3 separate regions of the Homo sapiens genome follow, and all the other regions are linked to region 1. The links come from fine-mapping of genetic effects on gene expression. A gene starts in region 1. Each other region holds a variant in brackets. All regions are shown on one strand. Distances are between the middles of the regions. Region 1 holds the start of ACKR1 (atypical chemokine receptor 1 (Duffy blood group)). Region 2 holds the start of OR10K1 (olfactory receptor family 10 subfamily K member 1). Region 3 overlaps CASQ1 (calsequestrin 1).

Region 1 (8,008 bases):
CTCCCGCTTGCTCCCCAGCCCACCCACCCCCCTGTACAGAATGTCTGCTTTGGGTGCGGTTTTGTACTCGGTTTGGAATGGGGAGGGAGGAGGGCGGGGGGAGGGGAGGGTTGCCCTCAGCCCTTTCCGTGGCTTCTCTGCATTTGGGTTATTATTATTTTTGTAACAATCCCAAATCAAATCTGTCTCCAGGCTGGAGAGGCAGGAGCCCTGGGGTGAGAAAAGCAAAAAACAAACAAAAAACAAAACCCTGGAGTGTTAGGAGGAGAGTGAAGGTAGAGGGGTGAGGAAGGGTAAGGGGCAGGGCTGGTTTCAGCTGGGGGCTCTCACCAGCCCTCCTTTCAGCCTCTACAACAGAGCAGCTTCCCAGACTTCTCCAGGAACCCAGAAACGGGATGGTTGTCGGCAAAGGTTGGGAGTGGCTTTTCCTCTGGTAGCCACACACCTGAGCACTACGGACAGGGAGGCAGGTGCCACCTTGACACCTCTCTTCCATAGCAATGGGAAAGTGATGAGTGCGGGAGTCCTGAGGAGATGTGGCCTGCAGACAACATGCAGCCATGCAGGGACCCAGGACTGTAACCTGGGGAGGACGCGGGTCCCTGCAAGGAAGAGTAGATTTGGAGAGGAAGGATGGAGGTGGACTCTCACCCCATTCCCCCCGGAAATGAACAAAGCCGGGCCCTTTCCATAGGAACTGCCCTTGGAGATAGCAGAGTGTGGCTGCCCCTCCTTGCTCCAGCAGCAGTGGGAGAGGCACTGCTCTGGGGCCTGAACTGCCTCTGCTTCCCCCCCTGAGGGGCCCCTCACTCTTACCCAAGACTCTGGATTGTTGCACGGCAACCACTCCTCCCATGGCATTGCTCAGCAACTACTTCTCCCTTCCCGGCCACCCTGTGCCCCCTTCCTGGTCCCAACGCCAGCCCTTCATCCTTCCTCCCTCAGCAGCCAGGCAGACATAACAACAAAACTACTAAAAGGAGCTTCACTGCAGTGAGCTGTTTCCTGCCCAAACTAAGGGAATAATGTGAACTGTGTGCATGTGTGTGGTGTGTATGCATGTGTGCATGTGTGTGTGTGTGTGTGCATGTGTGTGAGTGAGTGAGAGGCAGAGCGAGGAACTGAGGAGGAGGGCTAAGAGCCAGGGGTCCTGGGCAAGTGGACAGGGCTGTGGGACATGTTGGGGAGGCTTTGGGAATGGGGTATTCCTAGTCAGGGTTCACACCTCACCTGGGATGTTGTTCCATGCTGGTATTTCCTCTGCCACCCCCAATGCCCATCGGTCTTGGAGAAAGGAGTCCCCGGGTGTGTGTTTGCCCAGCTGTCCATTCTATCTCTCCCTTAAACACAGAGCATTCAGCCCTTCCCTGGATTTCCCTCCTCTGAGCCATGGAGTCAGTGCCACAGCCTTTGCTATGCACCTCTCAGGCCTCTCCTTGGCGTTGACCCTGGAAAGACCTACCACCACCTATTTTTTCCCATAGTCTGTACCCAGTGAGTTGAAGGCTGGGTCCCCACCCTTCCTTTTGATTTCCTGTCTTCCTTCTCGTGGCCCCAGCTGGTTGCTGTGGAGATGAGGTTCCTGGTCCTCCCTGTCCTGGCTGGACTGCCCCGCCTCAGATCCAGGATGCCCTTGGCATCGCTCCCACCCTCCCCCAGCTTTTCCTCCCTGGTCTGACAATGGGCATGCAAAAAGGGGCAGCTGCAATCTAGCAGGCCTGCCCACCCCCTTCAGTTCAGGTAATACAGTTGTGAATCTTCCAGCCGCTGGTTAGGGCCTTGGGCACCACAGGCAGCCCCTCACCTAAGCCGGGGCCTACTCCTCTTACAACAGCAAGAGAGCCCTGGGGCCCCAGGCCTGTTGAGCTTCTTGTCTCCCAGCACCCGCTTTTGGGAAAATGACTTTTCCTCTTCAAGCTGAACCACTCTGTCCATATTACACAGAAGCCATATTTGTACGGGGGGGTGGGAGGGAGAGGGGCTGTTGTGCTGTGTGTGTCTGTCCAGGGGTGGGGGGGTGGGGGAAGGGAGCAGGGAGGGGACCGTGTATCTTTATAATCTTTCTAACTCTCCTGTGCTAATCTCAGAGGGGTCACCCTCAATATATCTGGATTATCCGTGTCATTCAGCTGCCTCCTTTCTGGTCCTCTTGCTGCTGCTGGGATGTGTGTATGTGAGGGTCTTCTTCCCATACCCCTTGCACCTGGTGCCTGGTGCCTCAAAAGGTGGTGTGTCCCTTGCCAGGCCACTCTCAAGAATATCTATGTACAGCAACAATATAACTCTACAAGGGAGAGAAGTGTGTTCACTTCCTTTTGCTAAGCCCTTCCTTTCCAGAGAGTGTCTTGGGGGGCATCTGACTGCTTCCCCCCACCCTCTGCCAGGCATTGCTGGAGAATGTTAAGACGGCGATGGAGATGCCATCAACCCCACCCTGCAGAGCATCACCAGACACCACCAGACCAAATTCACTTTCCAGCCCCTTCATGTTGAACCTGAAACTTGAGCTAGTGTCTTGGGAGAAAAGGGGGAAATCTCTACGAGGTACCCATCCTTCTGCACCTTAGGTCTGAGGTGCTTGGCCCCCTAGGAAGCCCTACATGAATGGGACAGAAGGTCCTTAACAACACTGGAGATGAAGCAGCCGATGCTGTTTTGGACAAATGAAACAGCGTCCCCTAACCAGCCCTTTCTATCTCATTGTTCTGACTTGGACACGCCATGGCTCACCGCTCCCAAAGTCCCCACTATGTCTCCCTAGCTGAGGAAATAAAAGCAGAGAGGGGTGATGAAACAGTGACGATCCTGGGGAAACAGCTGAGGAGGGGAGGGAGGGGGAAGAAGCCACTAAAAAAGTGAAATGTGCTTGGGAGAATCGGCCTGCCTGCAGGGTAGATGCCCTTTCTCTCTGCTGGCCAGCTCTGCCCCTCAGTGAGAAACTTTACATATTGCTAAGATGCCTGGCCAATGAAACAGTTCCAGAGACTTTATGTCCCCCAGTAGAAATATGAATAGAAATCACCCTGTGGGCAATGGTCCCATTTTAAAATATGCTGTCCCATTGTCCCCTAGAGCCTACTTTAACTTGTCAGACCATGTATTCCACTTCATATGCAAGAGGCATGCACTGAGCCCATAGGTGGCTAGGCAAACACCCAATAGCTCCCTGAAATGGCTTCATTATGCAGCCTCGACAGCCACCCCAACCCTCCCACTCTCACACTGAAACACCCAGACCTAGAGATAGCTAGACACACCCAGACACCCGCCAAGCCCCTCACATACAGATATGTGCACAATGATACACAGCAAACGTACACAGAGTTCAGTACACACAAAGAGCTCACGCCCACGTGCACACACCCCTCAGTTGGGACAGAGTTGACCACCACCACCTTTCTCCCAAACACATGGCTTTTGAACTGCCTTTCCTTGGATCCAGTTCAAGGGGATGGAGGAGCAGTGAGAGTCAGCCGCCCTTCCACTCCAATTTCCCAGCACCTCCCTTATCTCTGCCTCACAAGTCACCCAGCCCCCCTCTCTTCCTTCCTTGTGCTTGAAGAATCTCTCCTTGCTGGAAAGCCCCCTGTTTTCTCAATCTCCCTTTCCACTTCGGTAAAATCTCTACTTGCTGGAAAGCCCCCTGTTTTCTCAATCTCCCTTTCCACTTCGGTAAAATGCCCACTTTCTGGTCCCCACCTTTTTCCTGAGTGTAGTCCCAACCAGCCAAATCCAACCTCAAAACAGGAAGACCCAAGGCCAGTGACCCCCATAGGCCTGAGGCTTGTGCAGGCAGTGGGCGTGGGGTAAGGCTTCCTGATGCCCCCTGTCCCTGCCCAGAACCTGATGGCCCTCATTAGTCCTTGGCTCTTATCTTGGAAGCACAGGCGCTGACAGCCGTCCCAGCCCTTCTGTCTGCGGGCCTGAACCAAACGGTGCCATGGGGAACTGTCTGCACAGGGTGAGTATGGGGCCAGGCCCCAGAGTCCCTTATCCCTATGCCCCTCATTTCCCCTGCTGTTTGCCCCTCAGTCTTTATATCTCTTCCTTTTCCTCCTCATCTTTTCTCCCTTCCTGCTTTTTTCCTCTTCCTTCAAAGTCTTTTTCCTTCTCTCCTTCCTATGCTAGCCTCCTAGCTCCCTCTTGTGTCCCTCCCTTTGCCTTTGAGTCAGTTCCATCCTGGTCTCTTGGTGCCTTTTCCTTCTGACCTTGCACTGCTCCTCCAGCCCCAGCTGCCCTGGCTTCCCCAGGACTGTTCCTGCTCCGGCTCTTCAGGCTCCCTGCTTTGTCCTTTTCCACTGTCCGCACTGCATCTGACTCCTGCAGAGACCTTGTTCTCCCACCCGACCTTCCTCTCTGTCCTCCCCTCCCACCTGCCCCTCAATTCCCAGGAGACTCTTCCGGTGTAACTCTGATGGCCTCCTCTGGGTATGTCCTCCAGGCGGAGCTCTCCCCCTCAACTGAGAACTCAAGTCAGCTGGACTTCGAAGATGTATGGAATTCTTCCTATGGTGTGAATGATTCCTTCCCAGATGGAGACTATGGTGCCAACCTGGAAGCAGCTGCCCCCTGCCACTCCTGTAACCTGCTGGATGACTCTGCACTGCCCTTCTTCATCCTCACCAGTGTCCTGGGTATCCTAGCTAGCAGCACTGTCCTCTTCATGCTTTTCAGACCTCTCTTCCGCTGGCAGCTCTGCCCTGGCTGGCCTGTCCTGGCACAGCTGGCTGTGGGCAGTGCCCTCTTCAGCATTGTGGTGCCCGTCTTGGCCCCAGGGCTAGGTAGCACTCGCAGCTCTGCCCTGTGTAGCCTGGGCTACTGTGTCTGGTATGGCTCAGCCTTTGCCCAGGCTTTGCTGCTAGGGTGCCATGCCTCCCTGGGCCACAGACTGGGTGCAGGCCAGGTCCCAGGCCTCACCCTGGGGCTCACTGTGGGAATTTGGGGAGTGGCTGCCCTACTGACACTGCCTGTCACCCTGGCCAGTGGTGCTTCTGGTGGACTCTGCACCCTGATATACAGCACGGAGCTGAAGGCTTTGCAGGCCACACACACTGTAGCCTGTCTTGCCATCTTTGTCTTGTTGCCATTGGGTTTGTTTGGAGCCAAGGGGCTGAAGAAGGCATTGGGTATGGGGCCAGGCCCCTGGATGAATATCCTGTGGGCCTGGTTTATTTTCTGGTGGCCTCATGGGGTGGTTCTAGGACTGGATTTCCTGGTGAGGTCCAAGCTGTTGCTGTTGTCAACATGTCTGGCCCAGCAGGCTCTGGACCTGCTGCTGAACCTGGCAGAAGCCCTGGCAATTTTGCACTGTGTGGCTACGCCCCTGCTCCTCGCCCTATTCTGCCACCAGGCCACCCGCACCCTCTTGCCCTCTCTGCCCCTCCCTGAAGGATGGTCTTCTCATCTGGACACCCTTGGAAGCAAATCCTAGTTCTCTTCCCACCTGTCAACCTGAATTAAAGTCTACACTGCCTTTGTGAAGCGGGTGGTTTCTTATTTTGTCTGGGGAGAAGAAGGAGAATGGAGAGAGAGACATTTTTATGTCAGACTTTCTTGCCAGTGTCTGCTTCTATAGCTGGCTTGGGAAGAAGGTGAATGATGAATAAATACCCTCAGGGTACACAGATGTTCTCTTGAGGTGTGGGGTCACGGCCATCTCAAGGGAGAAGAGAAGAGGAACCAGAGCATGAGGGGAGTCATTAAACCAAAAAAAACAGAAGGGATGGCTTAGCTGGAAAAAAAGCTGTTCTGGGAAGCAAATGGAATAGGAACTCAAACTGAGAGATAAACAGTGAAGAGTGATGACAAAGCCCAGAGCAATACCACCTCCCCCTGTCCAACCTGCCCAGCCTCTGTCTTCTGTCTCCTCTCTGGCTTTGTTTAGTGATTAGGACAGTGGTGGGGAAGGTGAAAGAAGCATCCCAGGGGATGTTACTCAGTTCAGGGAACATATCAAGGTAATTTAAAAAGCCACTTCCTGGGAGTCATCTCTCCCAGGTTCCTCAGCATGACCTGAATGTGCGTGCGTGTGTGTGTGTGTGTGTGTGTACACATCTGTTTCTCGATCTGTTAGAATCTACCTTTATGTTAGATGTATGCATGTAAAAACATATGTCCACCCATGAGCTTGCATCTCTGTCAGCACCTGAACTGCGCACACCTGTGCGTGTGCACTGACTTTTCTCAGGACCCAAACCCCCACTCAATTCTGCACTCATCCCTGTTCACAGGATATAGAATCGGGATTTATGACTCACTCCTTACCCAAATGAGTTTTCTTTACCCTGGTTTTTAAGCCTAGTCTTTTCTGTGTAGGATGTGTGGAGGGAAGAAAAGATCAAGAAGTTGTGAAGGGTGGAGAAACTTGAAGGGGGAGGCCCTGATTTGATTCATCTTCTGCTTGGAATTCCCCGAATTTCCCTTTCAGAATCTCAGCTTTTGAAATAAACCTTTATTTCCCACATACATCTTTCCTTCCACCTTCCACACAATACCCCAATCCCCTGGGCACCTTTTTCCCAACCCCTGATTCTCTGGCTGCTTAATCATGACCTTTGAGATTTTTCTCAGTCTCTACCTACCCAAGTTTAGATGGCTGGAAGGACAGAAACCCCTCCTCATCAGGGGCACAGCTTTTACCACCAAGAGCAAATTCACCCTCTACCCAAGAGGCTACAAAACAGTTAGTTCCTACCTCTAACCCAACTAAAGGCTGGGGAAACTTGAGCAGATACGTTCTATCAGTTTGAACCCAATTACCATCTTACCATTTTCCAAAGATATGCTATACCTGGTTTCTTTACTAAAATGTTTCTGCTTGACTCTCTGGGCTTGGGAATAGTAGGCGAGTGCGGGAGAGGTGCAGAGATGAGTTAGAATAGCTTAGGCAGGAGGGTGCAAAAGGCTTAGGGAATTTTCCTGGGTGGGTGCCACGACAAGGCCTCTAAATCTCCCACCTCCTGTCTCTTAGCAACCACCAGGTTAGCTCCTGATTGGTTCGTCCTCAATTGAAAGGCGGGATTTAGGGACCGATTGAGACGCGGGAGACATTCTGAAACAGAAAGGAAGGGAGAGAAAATGAAGAGAAAGGAAATAATTTACAAACCTAAATTATGCTCTGGTTTCCAACCACAGTTCATGAATGTGTTCTAGTATTTTTTCCCCCGCTTTTTTTTTTCCAGGCTTCTCTCAATATCCCCCTCCCGTCCTTGACCACTCTTGCAATTCTACCAGATGTTGCTGTCCTCCCTTACAAGGTACTGATTTGGAAGCTGACCTAGTTGAGGGGGAGGAGAGGGCGTTTTTGACTCCCTGAATCTTCCAGTGTCAACCTGATGCAAGGGAGGCTTAATTTAAGACCAGTAGGCTTGTCTTATCTGCCCCCAACCCTGTGCCTCTGGATAGAAATCCCTGGTCAGTCAGTCCAGTTAGAGAGAACCCCAGACTCCTGGGTAATAGCTTGGCAGCTCTCATGGCTTTCACAAGGGAAAGGCAGCTGCAGAAGCCCGAAGCTGCTAAGAGGTTAGGGTGGGCTGGAGACAGTGCCCTACCCCCGCCCCCTGCTACATCCTCCTCATCCCCACCCCCACCGGGATTGCTCCAGGCCTTTTGGGCTGCCCTTTCCCTGCCATTACCTAGGCAGCACTTGGAGAGCTCCTCCTTAAGTCTAACCCGGACCTCAGTCATTTCTTTAAAGCTTTCTTGGGGACCTGCCACCCCATGCATTTAACCCACTGCATGCCATCAACCACTCTAAAATTGGTCTGAGTCTGGCATCTTTTCTGCAACCCTTCAGGAATACAAATCCTGTCTCCTTAAAGCCCTTAAGAATTTAATCTTAGGGTTGGCAGGGACTTTAGCTGTGTATGAGATATTGGGCATCCTAGCTAAAGAAAAAAATCCTCTCAGAAAGATGAGAGCCAGGGAAGCAAGCTCTTGGGAAAACACAGGACCCTGAGGAAGGTCAGTTTGCTTTGCTTTCTAAAGGAGAGAGATCTATTATTCAAGG
Region 2 (11,304 bases), 740 kb before region 1:
AGAAAAAAATGATAAATTGAACTATGTCAAAATTAAAAACTTCTGCTTTTAAAAAGTTAGGCAATTTGATGGGTGTAGAACTCTGTGAAAATACTAAAAATCACTGGACTATATAAATAAAAAGTACAGATTTTATGATATAAAATTATAGCTCAAAAATTTATATAAAAAGGAATGATTAATGAAATGGAAAGGTGATTCACATGCTAGGCTAACATATTTACAAAATATATACCTAATAAAGAGCTTGTATCCAGAATAAATATATATCTCTTATATAAAAAGGGAAGACACATAATTAAAAGATGGTCAAAGGTTTGAACACACACTTCAAAAAACAAGATATACAAATAGCCACAGAGCCCATACAAATGCTCAATATAATTATTCTTCAAAAGAATGCCTAATAAAACTAAAAGGATAGATATCTACACATGTGATAAATTAAAAAACTGACAATGCCTAGAGGTGGATAAGATAAGAAACCACTGGAATTTTTACAACATTGTTGGTAGGATTGAATTATGATACAACTTCTTTGAAAAACAGCTTGGAGGTTTATAAATAGCTAAATTTATACCTATGATGTGGCAGAGTCACTCCACTCCTAGGTATGTACCAAAGATAAATGAACATATATGTCTATACAATGACTGGGAAACTTATGTTCATAACAGTTTTATTCCTATTAGCCTCCAACGAGAAAGAATCCAAGTATCTTTCAACAGTTCGATTTATCCTTCACTGAATAAATTGCAGTGTATTCATAAAATGGAATACTATTAAGCAATAAAAAGAATGAACTGACAAATGACACAACATGAGTGAATCTCAGAAATATGCTAAGAGAAAGAAACTAGACACAAAAGTTATCATACTGTATGATTCAATTTACATGAAATTCTGGAAAAGGCCAAACCATATTAACAGAAAACAGATTACTGTTTTTCTGGGACCAAGACTGAGTAGAACTGACCACAAGTGGGGAGGGGGAGAGTTCTGGCATTGTAGGAATGCTCTGTAATTTGATTGGAGTGTTTCTGGGACCAAATCTGGGTAGAATTGACCACAGGGCTGGAGGGGGAGATTTCTGGCATTGTAGAAATTCTTTGTAATTTGATTGGGGTGTTGTTGCTTAGTATTGCTTAAATGTACCAAACTGTACATTTAAGTTGGGAACATTTTATATGATGTAAGTTAATCCTCTATAAGGTTAATTGTTAGTATTAAAAGTTTTCTAATAAAAATAAAAGACAAGGTGGAACACTTTTAATTCAAAGGTCAAACACAATTATTGAACCAAGTAGTCTCTCAAATCTATAAAGAAAAAATGTAATAGGAAAATAAATAGATAATTTTCAAAAGTTGGATAACAGTGTCTGATAATTTTTTTTAAAGTGCTTACCTCTACTATTAATCAAAGAAATGTAAATGGGAGCACGGTATGATTTTTATATTTCATCTTGGCTAGAATTTAAAAGATTAAAAGTAACATCATATACATTATGGAGAAATTGGCATCTTCACATATTGTTAATGAAAGTATAAGTTTTATAACCTTTGTGGAGATTATATGCCAACACAATGCATATTAAAATTTGAAATAAGAATAGATTTTCAATCAGCAATTTCATTTTGTGGGTAATGCACAATTTTTCAAAAAACTATTTCATTTATCCAAACTCTGAGAAATTTATAAAAATTAATAAAATGGCATTTATAAAGTTATTCCAACTATGGACAAGAAAAATCACAACTCTAGCATCTATTGCAAAGATTGAGGTAGGTTTACATATTGTTACTTTTTGAGAGTCTATGAATTTAAAATAATAGGTTTGATAGAGAAAATAGAGGCTTATGTATGTATTGGAAGATTAGGAGAATAAATGTCAGGAAAGCTGCTCTTGATTTTCCGAATTGCAAGGATCACAGGAAGCCCTCACAGATGATCTTGGCTGCTTCAGTACTGATGGATGATTCTCAGAAAATCTGAACGTGAAGGGCTAAAGTCCACATCTATCATCTGATAAGTGCTGGCATATCACCCTGCCCCAAACAACTGGCTTCCCCCTTCTGCATCCACATATTTCATGAATGCTCCTTTTTTGTAAAACCCTTTTGGCAAGGTGATATGGAAAACAGACATCAGGATTTCCAGAATTTTTATTCCTACATTGTGGTACAGAGAACTTAGAAGTGTAAGTATGATACTAAATATCAGTAAAATATAGTCAGCACAGGTTTCCCTTTTAGATATTCACCATCCATACACATCCTTCTGTTGATGTTTAAATTTCCAAACAGTAATAACGAATATAACGAAAATACATCTCACATAAAGAGGTACCCACATTTATCTCTAAAAATGAAACAATAAATTATTTGATAGCCTTTTCTTTGTAGATGGAATTATAATGTTTTGTAACATCAACACACCTTATATATACTGGTAGGTTAAGACAAGATGGGAAAATGATCAACATACACATATATACATAATAAAGCAAGCAGTAAAATAAAACAGCTACTGCAATCCTTGTTTCTGTAAGTAAACATGACTATCACTGATGCTTATGACTTTTTAAAATGTCACCTGTTTATATTCTTTTGAACTCACCTAATACCCCAACATTTCTGAAGGGCTTGAACTATTAGTGACTGCCTAAATTAGGTTGTTTTAGTCTTCTATTAAATTTTGCCTTTATATATGAAGTAATAAAAAATGCCCTAGAACATCTAGATTCTAGACATACTATTTTCTGCCTTGGTAGTGTAGCGGCAACACCCTATTTTTCGTTAAAAAACAGGATTCATTTCTGTCTGTAGATTACTGGTACAGAAGGACAAAGTAGACTGAAGTGGCCAAGGGGCCATCTCAATCACCATTTTTGTGTTTTCTGGTGGAAGTAACACTCCTTTGTGAAATAACACTTCTAATCCACAAAGCTCAAACTTATGCATATAAGTCATTAGGAGTAATAACAGAAGGATTCATTTCATCTCCCCTTAAACGTCGGTTCTCAGACTTATACATTCTTGTTAGTAGAGAATGAACACAATCCTTTGGCTGCTGGTTCAGAGTATATTCTGCTTTGGGCAGACACATGGGGCTGTACTAGGTATTGGCACAGAGCCAGTGCAGTAACTGAGCCTCAAGTAAACCGTTTCATATTCCACCAGGTCACCTCCTTCTGAGCGGTGGAATACACAGAGGCTTCCCAGTATTATTTAGTACATAATTATAATTCTCTCACTGACTTGTGAGGTCACTTCTGCCAAAGACCAAGTTCTCAAATACACATACATTAATTTCTGAGCTCTCCTTTCTGTCTCTATACTACTTATTTCTTCTTGCACCAATAGCATGCTCTTTTTTATTACTAAAGCATAGTTTTTTTTTACTAGGAAGAGTGAGGGCCTATATTACTTGCCCTTTACAAAATTGTTTTATAATTTCATGAAAATTTTGGAAATCTGATTGTCAGGGTGACTTCAAAATTTATGCATGGATTTGGGTTGGAATTATATTGGCTTTATAGATTAGCTTGAACAAAATTCACAACTCTATATTATTTTGTCATTCTGGTAAAATGCATTAATAAGATAACACACTGTTTGATGACAGAGCTCAACTAGATTTAGTATACTTACTAAAATTTTAGGTTTTTGCAAAACATCTCAATGTTCTTAATTAGAGTTTCTAGGGGCAGCGCCCTGGAAAACATCATTCAACCCTCTTTTGATTCTTAGAAACACTGAAGTTGAGTGTCATTGGACAAATACATCAGTCTTCTGATTAAAATTCAGTAAAAATTTTCCACTTGGTCTGTTGCATTACAGTCTTAATTGTGGTGGGCTCTCCTTCAGAATCCATCACAACTTTCAAATGGACTCAACTTTCAAAGCATACATGGGCTAATTATGCTCATGACTTCAACTCCCCAGGCTCCTCAACTGAGGCCACCTTTGAGAAACTGGTGACATTATTTTTTCCAAAATGAACTTGACTCCTAATTAACCCCAAGACAACAGCTCCAGTGCAGTAGATCTAACCTCAGGAGTCCAGTGTTTACAGTACATGCTTCTAATAACCACATCCCACGTTGGTCATCAGAACTTCTGAAGATGGTGACTTATCTGGAGAAGCTGGGAGTCCTGATAGATGGAGGAGGCTAGCTCTGTTGATTCAGATGAGAGTTTCTATCTCAAGGCAGCTTCCCTCTCATTTGCTGTTATTTCCTCAGGCTCTGATTTGTGGCAGTGGTGCTACTTGTCAGGAGACTGCCAAATACTGAATAGCTGCTTCTCTCTAAATTAGAAGGGAGAGAGCAATGTAAGTACTTACCGAGCAGTGGGAACATTGACCTAGCTTGGGGATTTGTGGGGACTGGACTTGAATGATGGGTAGTGTTTGAGAAAGCCTCTTTCTGTGCCTCCCATGGAGATCAGTGATGGCATTTCTGGTAAGTAGCAGAGTTAAAAAGGAGAATCAGAGGCTACCTTTCACTGAACTTACTAAGAGTGACTGGGAATGGCCTTTATAATTCTCAGAATTTGGCTGGGTGTAGTGGCTCACCCCTGCAATCCCAACACTTTGAGAGGACAAGATGGGTGAATCACCTGAGGTCAGGAGTTTGAGACCAACCTGGCCAACATGATGAAACCCCGTCTCTACTAAAAATAAAAAAATTAGCCAGGCATGGTTGCGTGCACCTGTAATCCCAGCTACCTGGGAGGCTGAGGCAGGAGAATTTCTTGAACCTGGGAGGCAGAAGTTGCAGTGAGCCGAGACCGTGCCATTGCATTCCAGCCTGGGAAACAGAGTGAGACTCCTTCTGAAAAAAAAAAAAAAATTATCTGAATTGTTCTTGAAGATCATATTGGGTCATTCTTACTCATAGCTAGATTTTATTTTCTTTTTTCTTTTCCTTCCTTCCTTCCTTTCTTCCTTACTTCCTTCCTCCCTTCCTTCTTTCCTTCCTTCCTTCCTCCTCTACTTCTCTTTTTTGTTCATTGGTGGATTCATGGATTAAATGAAACAGATACTCCACTTGTCTCTCATCTCTCACTCTTCTACTTCTGTTTCTGCTGTGTACTCCTGGATGTATAATTTTAGGTATAATTGAAATCTAGTACTTAAACTCCATTTTAATATGGCAATCTGGAGAAATTAAAGATTTTTATTTGTATCTAAGAAGTTAAAATTTCACTCCTTTATTATCTGAAGCTGCTTACATAATTTCTCTCAGCTAACTGATTGATGTTTTCCTTAAAATAAATATTTATATTTCTTAAAAGTTTTACACGTGAAAACTCTGTAGATTGCCTTCTTTTGGGGGAACCCAGCACCCTCAAGTACTTTGTTTCTATTTAAATCCAGATTACATAAAATCCCAGTGGAGCATCTGAGGAATTAGAAAAATAAAACACTGAAGTAGCATCTCCAAGGATCATAGCCTGAATTCTATTCATACGTTCTAAAATATCACAATTAAGGGGATTTTGAGATCATCTAACTAGAGAGTCTTTGATTCTCTGAGCAAGAAAGGCTCCTAGGGGTCATAGTACTCCGATACTATCTTAGTCAAAATTCCTCTGTAAAATGTTCAGG[G/C]ATCCTCTGCTTCAGTGCCTTCCACATATCCCAACAGTTTATTCCATTACTGTTTATGCTATCCCTTTAATTAAAAAAAAAACTAAATATTGAAGGTATATACTTCATCTAAAGTCACAGAAGACTAGACCTGAAACCTAAATCTTTTCACATCACCCTAAAGATCTTTCATCTTCATTTTACAGCTTGAACGTATTTTGTAGGATGAGAATTTTTATTTTCCTGGTCTTAAGTCTTTCTATCAGTACAGATGACAACACACTATGGTGGTCCCTAATGGCATCTTGAGCAGATGGGGGCTGCCTTCTCAGATGCACCATGGAGCTGAATCCATAGATCATAAAAAGGCAATTATATCGATCACATGATTCATTTAGGCTATGGATTTATATTAATACTATGTAAAAATCCACTGGACTAGAATCAGCTGTCCTCATGTGCCTGAGCAAAAAATAATCCAAACAATTCTCTTTGGTATCAGTTAGATACAGGTACTCCTTCAGAATCAGAGAATTCCAGCTTCCATGGTTTACATTATTCATCATATTCAGTCAAGTGAGGGCCTAGTGGCGGTTAAAGGTTGATTAGTTGAAAGAAGATTCAAATGAAAGTCTTTTGGGAAAGCAATGAGGCAAGGCTAAGCAATGACCATAAGTTTAGATTTCCTCATTGTTTTGAATAGACAGGAAATCATTTGTCCAGAAGGAGGTATTATGTAGGGAAACTTTTACCTTTCTGTATATAAAAACATATAACTAATACACACACACTCATACACAAATATCAATGGAGGTATACATTGTGTTTACTTTTTCTATGTTTATGTACAATAGTAATATCTTTATAGTTATACTAACGTTATTAAAATAAGTAATTATATTAACTAAGTTTAGGACCAGTTTCTAGTAAGTAAGAAAGAAAAAAAATCATCTCCAAATTCTATGAATAGATATAATGAATTTCAAGAATGCCTGATGAATTAACTTAGGATTCAGGAAACAAAAAAAGTTGCTATTGAATAGAAAAATGGAAAAGTAACAGCAACAAAATTCTGGTAGCAGATGCCAATAATTTCCCAAGACAAAATGATGTAGTAACTTCAGAAGTATATAAATGAAGACTGGATACCAGCAAGACATACTGGATGATTTTGTATCCAGATAGTGCTTTTTTTACTTATTAGGTTGGGTTATTGAAAAATGTTCCAGTGAAAAAAATTAGGCCTAAGATGATTTTAGAAATAATTTGTAATGGCAGTTTGCAAAATATTTTTAGTGGCAGAATGTTCAAAAGAAATCTTATTAACATAACAACATACAAAAGATACAAAGCCTATGGTTTACAGCAGGAGAGGGGAAACTGGCAAAATTCCCAAGTGTGCCATTCTCTCTCACACTCTGTAGCAAGCTCTGTCATTTCTACAAAACTCTTATTTCTCTGAGTTTCTCCAAGTTAGCTCAGCATGGAAAAGTGAAGTGTGTTACAAAATGCCACAAAGTCAGTCATCTCTCTTTACCACCCTGGTGACTATTCTCTTCCTGAAAGAAGAATTTTTTTCTTTATACTAATGCACTAATGTTATTTATTTTTATTTTATTTTATTTATTTATTTTTGAGACAGATTCTCACTGTGTCACCCAGTCTGGAGTGCAGAGGCACAATCTTGGCTCACTGCAACCTCCGCCTCCCGGGCTCAAGTGAATCTCATGCCTCAGCCTCCCGAGTAGCTGGGATTACAGGTGTGTGCTGCCATACCTGGCTAATTTTTGTACTTTTAGTAAAGACCAGGTTTTGCCATGTTGCCGAGGCTGGTCTTGAACCCCTGGCCTCAAGCAATCCACCCACCTTGGCTTCTCAAAGTGCTGGGATTACAGGTGTGAGCCACCACATCTGGCTAATGTTATTTTTTGTTTCACTGTTGACTCAATGTTTCAACTTGTGGAACTTCCAATAGTATTTCTTATTGTTCCCTTGGAGATATAAAAAGTTCCCAGTAAATAGATGTGTGCTCACATCTTTACTTAGAGACCATGGAATACTTTATCTCCTTTCTCATTTCATGGTTGGATAAACTGAAGTCCACATGATTATGTCTGAATATTATTCATTCTTTCGTTCTATATTCTGATCAGCTTCAGGTAGCTGAAGTTAACGTTTTCCACTTTGGAGAGTGAGTTGCCTTGGGTTTATAGTAAGTGACAAAAACAACAATCTCTCTGTTACATAAGAAGGAAAACTATTAGCAAATTTCCTAATCCTTGGTCAGAGAGATAACCTGTTCTTCACATTAGAGAAGGCCTCCAAACTGGCTATCAGTTATTCTTTTGCATATTTTGCCTAATTCTTCTTTTAGCAGGCATTTTAATGGGGGAATGAAGAATTCCATCAAATATCTGGAAATGCCTGCCACCTGCAAACTTTGTGTGAAATTTCCCGTACATTTCCACTCTCCTTTCTGGATCCTGGTTTCTACCTCTGTCCCTGACTCTCCTTTATAGAAGTGCTCTCCATGGAGCAAGTCAATAAGACTGTGGTGAGAGAGTTCGTCGTCCTCGGCTTCTCATCCCTGGCCAGGCTGCAGCAGCTGCTCTTTGTTATCTTCCTGCTCCTCTACCTGTTCACTCTGGGCACCAATGCAATCATCATTTCCACCATTGTGCTGGACAGAGCCCTTCATACTCCCATGTACTTCTTCCTTGCCATCCTTTCTTGCTCTGAGATTTGCTATACCTTTGTCATTGTACCCAAGATGCTGGTTGACCTGCTGTCCCAGAAGAAGACCATTTCTTTCCTGGGCTGTGCCATCCAAATGTTTTCCTTCCTCTTCTTTGGCTCCTCTCACTCCTTCCTGCTGGCAGCCATGGGCTATGATCGCTATATGGCCATCTGTAACCCACTGCGCTACTCAGTGCTCATGGGACATGGGGTGTGTATGGGACTAATGGCTGCTGCCTGTGCCTGTGGCTTCACTGTCTCCCTGGTCACCACCTCCCTAGTATTTCATCTGCCCTTCCACTCCTCCAACCAGCTCCATCACTTCTTCTGTGACATCTCCCCTGTCCTTAAACTGGCATCTCAGCACTCCGGCTTCAGTCAGCTGGTCATATTCATGCTTGGTGTATTTGCCTTGGTCATTCCTCTGCTACTTATCCTAGTCTCCTACATCCGCATCATCTCTGCCATTCTAAAAATCCCTTCCTCCGTTGGAAGATACAAGACCTTCTCCACCTGTGCCTCCCATCTCATTGTGGTAACTGTTCACTACAGTTGTGCCTCTTTCATCTACTTAAGGCCCAAGACTAATTACACTTCAAGCCAAGACACCCTAATATCTGTGTCATACACCATCCTTACCCCATTGTTCAATCCAATGATTTATAGTCTGAGAAATAAGGAATTCAAATCAGCCCTACGAAGAACAATCGGCCAAACTTTCTATCCTCTTAGTTAAAGAGCTATTTTTTAAACTACTAATGCCTAGTACATGCCAGGCAGAACGTGTGTTTTATACATTTTTTTTCATTTAATTGTCCAGCTCCACTGTAACATAAGAACATTTTACATATGAGAAGAATGAGGCTCACAGAAGTTAAGACAGTCTGGCTTTCTACTCTCCATGATACTTTAACAAGACTAATCAGATATGGGAACAGAGCACACAGTTCCATAACAAATTTAATTATATTTTACTGCTTTAAATATTGCTAATTTAAAAACTAATATGAGAGCAAAGATGCATCTAAACTGATGAGAGCTGTGTCTTGAAGTAGAGAGCTTGGATACATCAGGAAAGAAAAGATGTATCCAAAAAAAAAAAAAGAAAGAAAAAAGAAAAAAAAAAGGAAAACAGCAGGAAATCCATCTATCCGTACTTTTCTTTTCCTAAAGACAACAGAAAACTTTGGTCCCACACATTCTGCTACAAATCTTGGTGGTCCTTTTTGTCCCCAATTCATTTCCTTAACCTACATATTGAAATATCTTGGCCTTTACTTGGGGTTGTTTTGTTCTTCCTTTGTTTGAGGTGGAACCACTTTATGGTTCTCTTCCTGATGCACATGTATGTCCTTCACATACTAGTGTGTCTTAGCCCCCACATTTGTTCCTGAGACACCATACTAATTTGCTCTCTTCAAGGAAGCTACTAGCATTGCCTACTTGCTGAAATATCTCAAGTAATTCCAAGCAAAGGGCTTGAGTTAATATTAATAGAAGGCTAGATTCCTAGAATGACCAGAAAACTCATGGAAAACCCTCCAGTGACTCCCTTTGCCCTACAAGATAATGCCAAGGGTCCTTCATTGTCATGAATCTATCATCTAGTTTCCACCTACCTCTTCAGTATTATCATTTCTAATTTTGTTATTCTCCATTTTCTATATGCCTTTTGTACACTCTGAAGCTAACCAACTATTTGCTTGTTTTAAAACAAATAAATGTGATGAACAAAATAAATGTGGTCTCTGCCCTCATAGGCCTTATTGCCTGGTTCAAGATAGTCCCAGTAAACAGAAAAATGAGGGAAAATACCTTACCAGTTTAAGTTGATTCTCTGAAGAAAAAGTGCATGCAGGCGATAGAGGAGAGAATACTAAGATAAACCTAATTTAGATCGAATGGCATAGGGTTGGTTTCCCAGAGAAACTGAGAGTTAACCTGCATGTAACCTGAAGGGTAATTAAAAGTCTTCAGGTAAAGGGGATATCCTTTAGGACAGAAGAAACAATGTGTACAAAACCCCTGAAGCAAGAACTGGATGAGTTGGAGACAAGCAAAGAAGGCCTGTATAAATGCTGTTTTAAAAATGCTTTTCAATTGACAAAATTATATATATTTATGGTGTAAAACATGATATTTTCTCCCATCCTGTAGGTTGCCTGTTCACTCTGATGGTATTTTCTTTTGCTGTGCAGAAGCTCTTTAGTTTAATTAGATCCCATTTGTCAATTTTGGCTTTTGTTGCCATTGCCTTTGGTGTTTAGACATGAAGGCCTTGCCCATGCCTATGCCCTGAATGGTACTGCCTAGGTTTTCTTCTAGGGTTTTTATGGTTTTAGGTCTAACATGTAAGTCTTTTATCCATCTGGAATAAATTTTTGTATAAGGTGTAAGGAAGGGATCCAGTTTCAGCTTTCTACATATGGCTAGCCAGTTTTCCCAGCACCATTTATTAAATAGGGAATCCTTTCCCCATTTCTTGTTTTTGTCAGACAAAGGGCTAATATCCAGAATCTACAATGAACTCAAACAAATTTACAAGAAAAAAACAAACAACCCCATCAAAAAGTGGGCAAAGGATATGAACAGACACTTCTCAAAAGAAGACATTTATGCAGCCAGAAAACACATGAAAAAATGCTCATCACTGGCCATCAGAGAAATGCAAATCAAAACCACAATGAGATACCATCTCACACCAGTTAGAATGGCGATCATTAAAAAGTCAGGAAACAACAGGTGCGGGAGAAGATGTGGAGAAATAGGAACACTTTTACACTGTTGGTGGGACTGTAAACTAGTTCAACCATTGTGGAAGTCAGTGTGGCGATTCCTCAGGGATCTATAACTGGAAATACCATTTGACCTAGCCATCCCATTACTGGGTATATACCCAGAGGATTATAAATCATGCTGCTATAAAGACACATGCCCACGTATGTTTATAGCAGCACTATTCACAATAGCAAAGACTT
Region 3 (11,304 bases), 1.0 Mb after region 1:
GCTGAATGAGATTGATTTCTACGAGGCCTTCATGGAAGAGCCTGTGACCATCCCAGACAAGCCCAATAGCGAAGAGGAGATTGTCAACTTCGTGGAGGAGCACAGGAGGTGGGGACCAAGGGCAACCCTCTCAGCGGGGTCGGCTCCTCCTTGGGCTAGAACACACTGTGTGAGATGGGCTGGGGAAAGCTTAGCCAACCGGGAAGCCAATCTTGCCTGGAGATGAATACACTTTGGGCACCAGTGCTCTCTGATACACTGACAATTTTGCACAATATTTTATACCCCACTACTTAGCCCTGAGCCCTACACCGAGAGGGTCCTTCATAAGTGTGTATAATTCAGTGTGAGGTTGATTGAGACTTAAATAATCTCTGTCAACAAATGAGTGTTGACTGCCTGTGGTGGGGCAGGAACTGCAAGGTACTTTCCATCTCTATGATTATATTAAGTCCTTTTAACCTCAGTGAAAGTTTCTACAGGTAATAAGTGTCAGAGCTTTTAACCCTGATTTTAACCCTGATGTGTCCCATGTTTGTTCTTTTTTTCTTCTTCTTCTTTTTTTTTTTTTCTTCCGAGACCGAGTCTTACTCTATCCCCTAGGCTGGAGCACAGTGGCGCCATCTTGGCTCACTGCAGCCTCCGCCTCCCAGGTTCAAGCGATTCTCCTTCCTCAGCCTCCCAGGTAGCTGGAATTACAGGCACGCCACCACACCTGGCTAATTTTTGTATTTTTAGTAGAGATGGGGTTTCACCACGTTGGCCTGGCTGGTCTCAAACTCCTGACCTCAAGTGATGCGCCTGCCTCGGTCTCCCAAAGTGCTGGGATTACAGGCATGAGCCACTGCGCCTGGCCCCATGTTCTTTCTAATACAATATCGTACACCAATGGTTCTCTACAAGGTGGGAAGGCGTGGCGAGGTGGGCATAGGTTTTTGCCCTCCAAAGGATGTTTGGCAATGTCTAGACACATTTTTGGTTGTGCAGAGTGCTACTAGTATTTAGTGGCTAGAGCCCAGGGATACTGCTAAACATTCTACAGTGCGCAGGACAGCCCCCTACTACAAAGAATTATCTGGCTCCAAATGGCAATAGTGCTGAGGTTGAATAATCCTGCCGGGCACTCACACATAATTCCCTTCCTTCATAGTAGTCCACAGCTGGAAATATCCAATCACTCTGTCCCCCAGGCTAGCGTGCAGTGGTGGATCACTGCAAGCTCCCTTGCAGTATATACAGTACTTACTCTCCCATACTACTGGCTCCCTTCATCAAGGCAGGAACATGCTTGCCTGGTTCAACTGTATGTACCCAGCACCTAGCATAGTGCTTAGAACATATCGGGCACTCAATCATAGTGAGTGAGTGAATGAATGAATAAATTAATGAATATCCTGATGTCCAGTTCTTGCCTTTCTCCCCCAGTCTCTCTTCCAGTCCCTTTGCCCACCCTCCCCTCTCCCACCGCTTTAACCATGCAATGAGCCGGGCCTGGTGCCCAGAGTTGAGGCCTTGCCAGATGGCTTTGTTGTAGGCTACAAGCTGTCTGTGCCCTGGGCCTGACCTAGAGGCAGCCTTTGCTACAGGACCCTCTGGAGGGGGCATCCTTCTAACCCACTGAGTAATGACACTCTGTCTGTCTCTTCTAGATCAACCCTGAGGAAACTGAAGCCGGAGAGTATGTATGAGACCTGGGTGAGTGCCCCTGGCCAGGGTCAAGCCCTCAGGGAAGCATGGGTGCCAGAAGACTCAAGTCCTAGAAAAACCCCACCCTACTGCTCCTCAGGCCCATTTTTAGAAAAAACAGTGCACTGACCAGCTGGGTGTGGTGGCTCATGCCTGTAATCCCAGCACTTTGGGAGGCCAAGGTGGGTGGATCACGAGGTCAGGAGATCGAGACCATCCTGGCTAACACAGTGAAACCCCATCTCTACTGAAAATACAAAAAAAATAGCAGGGTGTGGTGGCGGGCGCCTGTAGTCCCAGCTACTTGGGAGGCTGAGGCAGGAGAATGGCTTGAACCCAGGAGGCGGAGCTTGCAGTGATCCGCCACTGCACACCAGCCTGGGGGACAGAGTGAGACTCCGTCTCAAAAAAAAAGAAAAAAGAAAAAACAGTGCACTAGCAGCAACTGAAAGATTTCTACACTGAAGAATGTGTGAGGAAATGGGAGACAGACATAATTGAAGATGACAAGGGAAGAGCCTCAAGCCTGGGGATAAAGGGATTATCAGAGGAAGTGTGGGGCCTTGGAGCTGAAAGGAGTGTCACTTGGAAAAAGGTCACCATCACAAGAATATATATGGCCAGGCGCAGTGGCTCACGCCTGTAATCCCAGCACTTTGGGAGGCTGAGGCAGGCAGATCATCTGAGGTCAGGAGTTTGAGACCAGCCCGATCAACAAGGTGAAACAATGTTGTACTAAAAATACAAAATTAGCCAGGTGTGGTGGCGCATGGCTGTAATCCCAGCTACTCAGGAGGCTGAGGCAGGAGAATCGCTTGAACCCGGGAGGCGGAGGTTGCAGTGAGCCGAGATCGCGCCATTGCACTCTACCCTGGGGGACAGAGTGAAACTCTGTCTCAAAAACAAAAAAAAACAAACCCCAAAAAACGAAAGAATATATCTGGTCCTGAAGCTGGATTTCCACAAAATTGAGGTTCAATGAACATCTAGGATCTGTTCTGGGCTCCTCAACTTCAGGGAGTATAGTAAGGTCTTCTCCAAAACCCTGTTCTCCTTCTTACCCCCTGACAGGAGGATGATATGGATGGAATCCACATTGTGGCCTTCGCAGAGGAAGCTGATCCTGGTGAGGGAGGAATACCGGGTTGGACTGGAGGGAAGGCAGGGGGAGGTGGGTGTGTTTATTGGAGCATGGGCCTCACTAGGAGGCTTTCCTGGGAGTTTGCAAACAGCCTAGGGCTAGACATGTGAAGCTTGGGGAGCAGGGAGGTAGCTCTGCACTCCTGTTTCACCTGGGTCCCTTTCCTCTCTACACACCTCATACCTTGTACTTGTGTTCCCTCCAAGATGGTTTCGAGTTCTTAGAGACTCTCAAGGCTGTGGCCCAAGATAACACTGAAAACCCAGATCTTAGCATCATCTGGATTGACCCTGATGACTTCCCCCTGGTAAGAGGCACAGCTCAGGCACTGCTATCTTAAGGTGGGGCCTTGGACTGTGACATCTTCTTAGTGAGGGCTTTGTTTCAGAGGTCCCATCCCCACCTCCTAGCTGGGGGGCCCTGGGAGGGTATGCGTGTTGCATGCTTAAGGGCACTGTTGGCATGGAGGGCATCCTGAGCAAGGGGAAACAGGACGGACATCACACACATTCCCAGAGCAGAGGCTGGATGGGTAGCTCAGGTGCTAGGGCTGACTCCTAAAGAAAACCAATGTTGTGAGGCACAATAGTCCTGCACATGGGTATACACACTCAATCATAGAATCATAGCACAGAGATTCCCTGTTTCAGGAGATGATTTTGTTCTCAGCTACATTCCCAACACCTAGCACTCGCTGTTGAATGAGTAACTGAAAGAACAAAGAGAAACGTGAGAAACATTGGCACTTACCAGGTATACTTGCCTTATTTTAGAAATGTAAGATCTGAGGGCCAGAGAGAAGTGACTTGACCTTGAACACAAGGATCTGATCCAGGATCAGAACAGGGTTTCCTATCCAGTTTTCCTCAGAAAAGAGGGGCCAGTGCACCCAGCTGACCCTCCCGATTCTCTCCCTTTAGGATTTCTCCTCTTTTGTTGTTTAGTTCTACCCTTGCCTTGATGCCCTCACAGGTGGACCTGTCCCCATCCACTGCCAGTTCGCACTGTCCCCTCTCCATCCCTGGGCTGACCCTCACACTCATCCTCCTGGATTCATGTGCTCCCTAGTATCTATTAAGTTGCTGTATTTTGATCTCTCTACAGCTGGTCCCATACTGGGAGAAGACGTTTGACATCGACTTGTCAGCCCCACAAATAGGAGTCGTCAATGTTACTGATGTGAGTTTCCTGTCCTCATCCCGGGTTGACCCCCGACTCTACTTCCTAGCATAGCTAGCTCTCCTCCTCTCTGCTAACTAGGAGTTGGGCCCTTCTCACAGGACGCAGACATGCCCAGTCTAGTGGCTGGATGGAGGGGGAGACTTAGGATCTGAATGTGGCCCTGTCCCACATGTTGGAATCAGTGGCTCATCCTTCAAGGCCCAGTTCAAATTCTTTCTCCTCTGTGAAGTCTTTCCAGATCTCCCATTTAAAATCATTCCCTCCCTGGCACTCCCAGGGCTCAATAGCCATTGAGAACATGACATTTAAATGGCTATTTATGTATTATGTGTGTCTCTTCCAGTAGATTTTTGAGCTTGTTCAGGGCAGAAGTCTTCTTATGCACACACAGTAGGTGCTTCAAAACTGCTAAGTTGAACTGAATGAGCCACAGTCTCTGCTTTCATAGAATTCTCAGACTAATTAGAGAGGCAAGTGTTCCATTAACTACAAGGCCAGATCTGATAAACTTTATAATAACGATACAAATAAGACACAGGATCACATTGATTTCTGCTTGACAGAATCAGAGAAAAGTTTAAGAAAAAGTGATATTCAAAATGGAGATTCTACAATGTATACGATTTCAACAAGTGATGATTCAGGGAAGTCATTTCCAAACTGAGGAAAAAGCAAGATCAAAAGTTAAAAACAGGAAAATGAATATCAGGTTCCCGGAAAAGGCAGGTGGATTTTTATGGTTGAGAGTCTAGAGATCACTGAGAATGGTACTAGAAAAGCAGGTTATGAAAAGCCCTGGGGCCAGGGTAGTGGCTCAGGCCTGTAATCCCAGCATTTTGGGAGGCCAAGGTGGGAGAATCACTTGAGGCCAGGTGTTCAAGGCTGCAGTGAGCCATGACTGCCCCTCTGCGCTTCAGCCCGGGCAATAGAGTGAGACCATGTCTCTTTTAGAAAAGAAAGAAAGAAAGAAATGTCCTGAATGCCGAAGAGTTGCTAACTTTATTCTTATAAGCCATGAAGAGCTACCAGTGGTTTTGCACCAAAGGCATAATAGGGAAGTTCAGTGTGGCAAGAGCACGG[G/A]AGACAGATTGAAGGGAGAAGGTCTATTTGCCAATCCAACTTTTCTTCCCACTCTCACCTGTCACTATTCTAACCCATAACCCATACCTTCACCTGGACAGTTTCCCTGGCCTTTGGCAGATGAAAGGAAGGGACTGAGAATGTAGGGAAGGATGTACAGAGTCCAGTGAGTGGGAAGACAGATCCTAAGACCCGGGTTGGACTTAGCTTCCGTCCCTGCCTGTGCCATCTCCTAGGCGGATAGCGTATGGATGGAAATGGACGATGAGGAGGACCTGCCTTCTGCTGAGGAGCTGGAGGACTGGCTGGAGGATGTCCTGGAGGGCGAGATCAACACAGAGGACGATGACGATGATGATGATGACTAGTTGCTATGGCAACCATCTTTCAGCCCCACTGGTCTTTTCATGCTCTCTCCTGCCTTCCCTTGTCCTTCCCTGAGTTCCTCCAGGGAGACTAGGTTATTCTCTGCCATAGAGCTAACTGGGGTCTATATGCTGGGTGCTGAGACACTGATCCCCCTCATTTGATGAGCAAATGAGCTACTTTTCCCTAGACACCAGGCCAGCTCTCTCTTATCTGACTTCTGTTTCTTATCCCATAACTTACTTGTATCTATTATGTGTCTCTTCCATCACTCTCCATACTCTTTCTTGTGATTCTCCTCTAGCCATATATATGGGCCCCATCTCTGTTCTGTTCCCTCCATCTATGCACAGCTTTCCCCCACTCTCTCTAATCCTGTATCTTTCTGACTGTCCTGTCCTTGGCCAGAAGGAAGGGAGAATACTGTGTTTGGGACTGTATCTCAGCAATCACTTGTTAATGTATTTGGGTCAAATGAGAGGCCTCAATAAAGACATCTGGGGCAGCATGAACAAGTGTATTTTGGTGAAGTCTCACCCCTATGGCAGGAGGAGGTGGCCACTGATGGGGAATTCAGATGTGGGTGCCTTGCTAGGGATGAGCTGGGGGACTCTTATAGTGGGGACTGGGGTTCCTCCAGGCAGCTTTCCCAGAGAAGCCTGGATTGTTAATCTGCTTCAAGTCAACAAGCCTTTTCTGAACACATGGTGTTTGTCCAGGGCCACTGTTAGGCTCTGGGAGAACAGAGAGTGCTAGGCCTGTCCCTGATCTTGAGCTGATTAGCCTCACGGAGAAGTCAAGACAAGCATACTAAACAATCGAAGAAGAATACAAAGCAATATGTAATTAAGTGATTATGTGCTGCTCGATAGCACCCTCTCTGCAGCTCTTATTTGAACATCAAGACAGAGCTCCAATTATACTTCCTTGGTGAAGCCTTCCCAGAGGTGGCCCCTCCAGTGATGACCTCTTCTGAGTTCCTGCTGCACTTCCATTCCAGTACTCAGCACAGTCTGTTATTGTTCTTCATTTACGTGTCTGTCTTCCCCACTCAACTGTGAGCCCCTTGAAGGCAGGAACCCAAGCTTTTTCTTTGTGTCCACAGGGTCTGACACTCAAAAGTTGTCCCTAGTAAATGTTTCCTAAAGGAAGAACAAAGGAAAGAACAGAATGAACTCAGAAGAGAGATCAGAGTGGGCTTGATGACTTCACAAAGGAAGTAAGCCTTTACTAGGCCTTAAATTGAAGAATGGGATTTGGTTGGAGACAAAGGAGCTGAGGAGGAGACATTTCAGTCAGTGGAAAACATCAAGTACTGGCAGGATATGTTTGTCATATTGGGGGCACAGAGACCAGAGAGACAAGAAGAAAAATCAAGTTGTGGCCATGAAGTTGGGTAAGCATAATGGGGCTGGGTTGTAGAGCTGTTTGAATTGAATCCTGCCAGCCGAGGAGGCAGGGCAAAATTTAATCTGGTAGCGATAAGCAGGATGGGGAGGGGAGATGATGGAGATGCCAGAGGTAAGGGGCCCAACCCATAATCAGTGACTGTTATAATAATTGGAGTGATGTTGGGAGAACATGGACCCAAGTGGTGGCCATGGGAATGGAGAGGAGATATTGTATACAATGGGGATCTCCCAGACCTGGGCCTGCTGGAGGTCTTGGCAAGAAGGACCCACAGTCTTTCCAGAATAGGCCCAGGCTGGGGTAAGCAAAAAGGAGTTTAGGGAGTTGGGGATGGGAGGGCCAAATAGCTAAATAAGCCCATAAATAATAAACATATACATATATAGTTTTGAGATGATGCCCATGAACAATAAACATTTTATATATATAATATATACAAATAGCTAAACAAGCCCATAAATAATAAACATTATATATATATTTTTGAGATGATGCCCATAAATAATAAACATTATATATATATACATATACATATATATGTGTGTGTATATATATATATTTTTTTCTTTTTTTTTTTTTTTTTTGAGATGGAGTCTCACTCTGTTGCCAGGTTGGAGTGCAGTGGTGAGATCTCGGTTCACTGCAACCTCCGACTCCCGGGTTCAAGAGATTCTCCTATCTCAGCCTCCCAGGTAACTGGGACTACAGGTGCCCACCACCACACTCAGCTAACTTTTTTGTAGTTTTAGTAGAGATGGGGTTTCACCATGTTGGTCAGGCTAGTCTTGAACTCCTGACCTCAGGTGATCCACCTGCCTCAGCCTCCCAAAGTGCTGGGATTACAGGCGTGAGCCACCACGCCAAGCCAACATTATATTTTTCATGGATCAGGTGTAAAGTTGTTGCTGAGAGACTTAGAGGATTTCTAAGTACGGAAAGATGAGACCTGAGATTAGATATATTTTCACTCTCCACAGACAAGTCCAGGAAGTGTTCCTAGAGAATGTGGCAGGGGTGTAGAAAGCAGAAACTATGTATTCATTCCAACTTGTAGCTATTTAATAAATGTTTAATAAGTAGTATGGGCACTAAGCTAGTCTTACAATAATATTGTGGAGCTTACTGTCTAGCATAGGTCAGTGGAAGGCCCCGGTCTAAATAATAGCTCCTATTTTTTAAGCACCCATCTGTGCCAGTCCCTAGAGACTTACTATTTCTGAATCTCAGAAGAACCCTCAGAAATAGACATTGGCACCCTGATCTGACCGGTGAGGACACTAAGGCTTTCAGGCATAACTTGCCCAAGGAATGGGTGGAACTAGCACGCAGCCCAAGGCCCCTGTGTCTTGTTGCCTCCAGACCTGAGCCTTTCACTTAGAAACTACATGAGTCTCAAAGATGGGTCAACGAAATAGTTTTTGTCCCTACAACACAGAGCAAACATGATATATACAAAGGCAAATGATTAGTGTGTGACAGGGAATGCTGGGGAGAGGAAACAGCAGAGAAATGCTATGAAACCCAGAGCAGCAGGAACTTGGGCCTCTTCTAGGAATGGTGTAGACCCAAGAAAGGAGGGGCTCGTTTGAGGTTTCTGGAGGAGTCTCTGCCAGGTAGGAACTGAGATGAGATGGGTGATCCTGGAAGTGGCACAAACACTGAGGGGAATCCCCCAACCTGGGCCTGCTGGAGTTCCTGGCAGGAAGGACCTACCCAGGGTCAGACTTCTTTCCAGGGCCAAACCCTGCCCAGAGCTGAGGCAAGACCCCTTAGGCTATAGAGATGGGGGTGAAAACAGATGCTTCTCCAATTCTTCCTTTCCTCTTTTCAGTCTGGCTGAGAATCTGGGGGAGGAAAGTCCCTGGGGTAGAGGGGAAGTGAGAGCTGCCACATTGGGCCTGGGCAGAGGGGCAGAGCTAGGAGATGGAGCTAAGTGTGGCTTTGCAAGTTGTCTATATTTGCATGCTGAGCTCACTGCTGCTCTTTTTCTCCCCAGAAAATAAAATTACATCATGGTAGGGGGAAGGCAGGAGTGGGGCATGTTTGGGAAAGGTGAGAGGCACGCAAGAGGGCCTGAAGGCATCATCCTGGAAAGAGAAGATCCAGGGCTCCTCAAGTCCCCATGTGGCCCCAACCCCTCACTCCCAATGTGGATAAGTCTGATCAGTCATTTTCCACTGCGCCCCTGACCCTTAAGGCAAGGCAAGAAGTTTTTACAAATATTAAAGCCAGCAGCTAAGAGAATCCAGCCCCCAAAGGCTTTCCAACCCCCTAAACCAAACCTACTCTGTGCCTCCCAGGGGTCCTAGGCACCGTGGTCATCCAAAGGTCAAAAGGGGAGGAGGGTGCCCTACTGGGTAAGAATTAAATATGAGAATTGTTTCGCAGTTCAGGGGGAAGAGACCGTCTCCGCTCCAGCCCTCCGCCCAATTCTGTCCCCCATCCTAGGAGTCTTCCAGAACCCCAGCCCCTCGGTCCCCCGCCCCCTCCTGCCTCTCCATCCCTCCCCCTCCTCCCGCCATTCCCCGCCCCCCGCCCCTCCCCGGCTCTGACATCACCGGCCAGCCGGGTGGAGTGAGCGGCGCTGGGCTCGGGCTCCGGCTCCGCGGGCGGAAGAGGCGGCGGCGGCGGCAGAAGCGGCGGCGGCGGCGGCGGGAGCCGAGGAGGAGGTTCCGGACGCTGCTTAGGAACCGGGGACTCAGGAGTGCCCGCGCCCTGAGCGCTCAGCTCCAGAGGCGGTGAGAGGGGCGGAGAGGAGACATGTCGCGGGGAAGGGGCAGATTTCGGGGTCTAGGCTTGGAGGGGCAACGATCTGGGACACCGGGGGCCAGACGGGGAGTGTGGGGACCCCGGACGAGTCCACTTTGTGTCAGGCCTCACGGGGTCCGTCCCTCGGTCGGTGCGTCCCGAGCGCCGAGCGTGTGCTGGAGGCGGCGTGGCTCCGGCCAGCCCGTTCCACGCTGAACGGCAGTTTGGGAGTCGGACCGGGGCCTGTGGATTAGGATGCAGCCTGCTTCCCGCCCAGCCGGCTCGGCCAGGCCAGCGCCCGCCCCTCCCTCCCCGCTCAGGCTTCGGACTCGCCTCCGCTGGCGGTCTCCCGGCCCAGCCCTGTCTCGGTTCCGCGGGCGGCTGGTACCATGTGCCCTCACCCCCAGCTCACTGCACCTGGGGAAGAGGTGGGCTTGGCGGAAAGCTTGTCCAGAGGGAAGGAGGAGCTGGGGGTGTAGAGAAGTGATGTATATCTAACGTAAAAACCCTTATTAATTTCATATAATCCGTGTCAAAACTGACAGGGAAACACGCACACCTATAAGGCACGCCAGCACACACAGTGACACACACCCATGTGACTTATACACATAGTCTAGCACACTCCAAATCACAAACGTCCCTGGACTACGCATCCGGCCGCCCACCACACCCCCACTCTGTGGGGTGGGGCATCCCATGAGGAGTCTTCTGAACTGCGGGCTCCAAGTCATCAGTCCGACAGGACAGCTGAGTGGACAGAAAGGGCCACTGTCCCCAAATCCATCCTGATTTTCTGGCAGCTTTTCCCAGCCCCATGGTTTCAGATTGTTCCTCTTTAAAACTGTGGGGAAAGATGGGAGAAAATCTTGGTCTCATTCCTCTAACACAAGGAGACAGGATTTTGCGGACTAATGAGGGTAGGGGCTTCTGGTGGCTTCTCTTCCTGGGTCCAGTTAGGGCTTAGCGTGCTGGGAGTGGCTAGTTTCTGGGTAAGAGTGGCCAAGGGATGGAGGAGGAGGGGGTGGAAGAAACGGAGAGGAAAAAGAATGGGTATGAGTCAGCCAAGAATGGAACCCAAGTCAGAGAGAGAATGAGAGGAATGTGTGTGAGAAGCAGACAGACATCTCCAGAGAGGTCTAGAGATAGTCAGGGAACCAGGGAGAGGGAGGAAGTGAGAGAAAGAGATGGTCAGAGAAGTGCAAACAGTGTTTGAGAGTGCACTAAACAAATTAGGGAGGATGAAGGTTGGGGGAGACCACTGGGAGTTAGGGAAAGTGGTACGTGTGTCTGGGCCCCAGGCTGTCAGAGCGATTAGCTTTAATTGCTCTTCCCTTTGTGGTTAAATACTCCATTGGGGAAATTGCCAGTGATGCCCTAGGCTGCAGGCTTCCCTGGTTGCCTACTTCCTCAATTCCGTGCCCATCATGTGTGGATGTATTATCATGCATGAAGAGGGTCACAGAATCACAGAGCGCCTCACTCTCTCACACAGATCCTCACGCACAATGTCATGATGGATATCTTCACCAGCTGGTAGGCAGCCAACCACTGAATCTCCAAGCCACTCCGACCAAACTTACTCTGTCTTTTGTAGCAGGGATGCTCACCCCTTCCTAATTGCAGCTCCGAATATTCAGATGGGGACAGTGAAGCACAGATCTCAGGAGTCCTAAGTATTCATGGCTACC

What was found.
Region 2: its variant is fine-mapped to the expression of ACKR1 in whole blood (GTEx, PIP 0.96).
Region 3: its variant is fine-mapped to the expression of ACKR1 in whole blood (GTEx, PIP above 0.99).

The regions. Positions count from the first base shown.
Region 1 is chr1:159,201,020-159,209,027 of GRCh38, forward strand. It overlaps ACKR1 (atypical chemokine receptor 1 (Duffy blood group)), which reads left to right and starts at 3,856. Exons shown (of 2, transcript NM_002036.4): 1 at 3,856-3,961; 2 at 4,442-5,481. The coding sequence starts at 3,941. The coding sequence ends at 5,431. It overlaps CADM3 (cell adhesion molecule 3), which reads left to right. Exons shown (of 9, transcript NM_001127173.3): 9 at 1-2,294. CADM3-AS1 (CADM3 antisense RNA 1) reads right to left here and starts at 1,403. Exons shown (of 4, transcript NR_037870.1): 1 at 1,231-1,403; 2 at 1-602.
Region 2 is chr1:158,457,442-158,468,745 of GRCh38, forward strand. OR10K1 (olfactory receptor family 10 subfamily K member 1) reads left to right here and starts at 4,393. Exons shown (of 2, transcript NM_001004473.2): 1 at 4,393-4,463; 2 at 7,965-10,017. The coding sequence starts at 8,121. The coding sequence ends at 9,062. It overlaps LOC107985212 (a long non-coding RNA gene), which reads right to left and starts at 5,330. Exons shown (of 2, transcript XR_001738256.3): 1 at 4,730-5,330; 2 at 2,146-4,309. The variant G/C (reference allele first, on the strand shown) is at 5,612.
Region 3 is chr1:160,195,920-160,207,223 of GRCh38, forward strand. It overlaps CASQ1 (calsequestrin 1), which reads left to right. Exons shown (of 11, transcript NM_001231.5): 6 at 1-108; 7 at 1,650-1,695; 8 at 2,758-2,812; 9 at 3,034-3,134; 10 at 3,932-4,006; 11 at 5,326-5,967. The coding sequence ends at 5,457. It overlaps PEA15-AS1 (PEA15 antisense RNA 1), which reads right to left. Exons shown (of 5, transcript NR_123725.1): 3 at 9,419-10,457; 4 at 9,152-9,215; 5 at 6,280-6,597. PEA15 (proliferation and apoptosis adaptor protein 15) reads left to right here and starts at 9,465. Exons shown (of 4, transcript NM_003768.5): 1 at 9,465-9,603. RefSeq lists enhancers at 8,671-8,770, 9,121-9,170 and a silencer at 9,321-9,580. The variant G/A (reference allele first, on the strand shown) is at 5,090.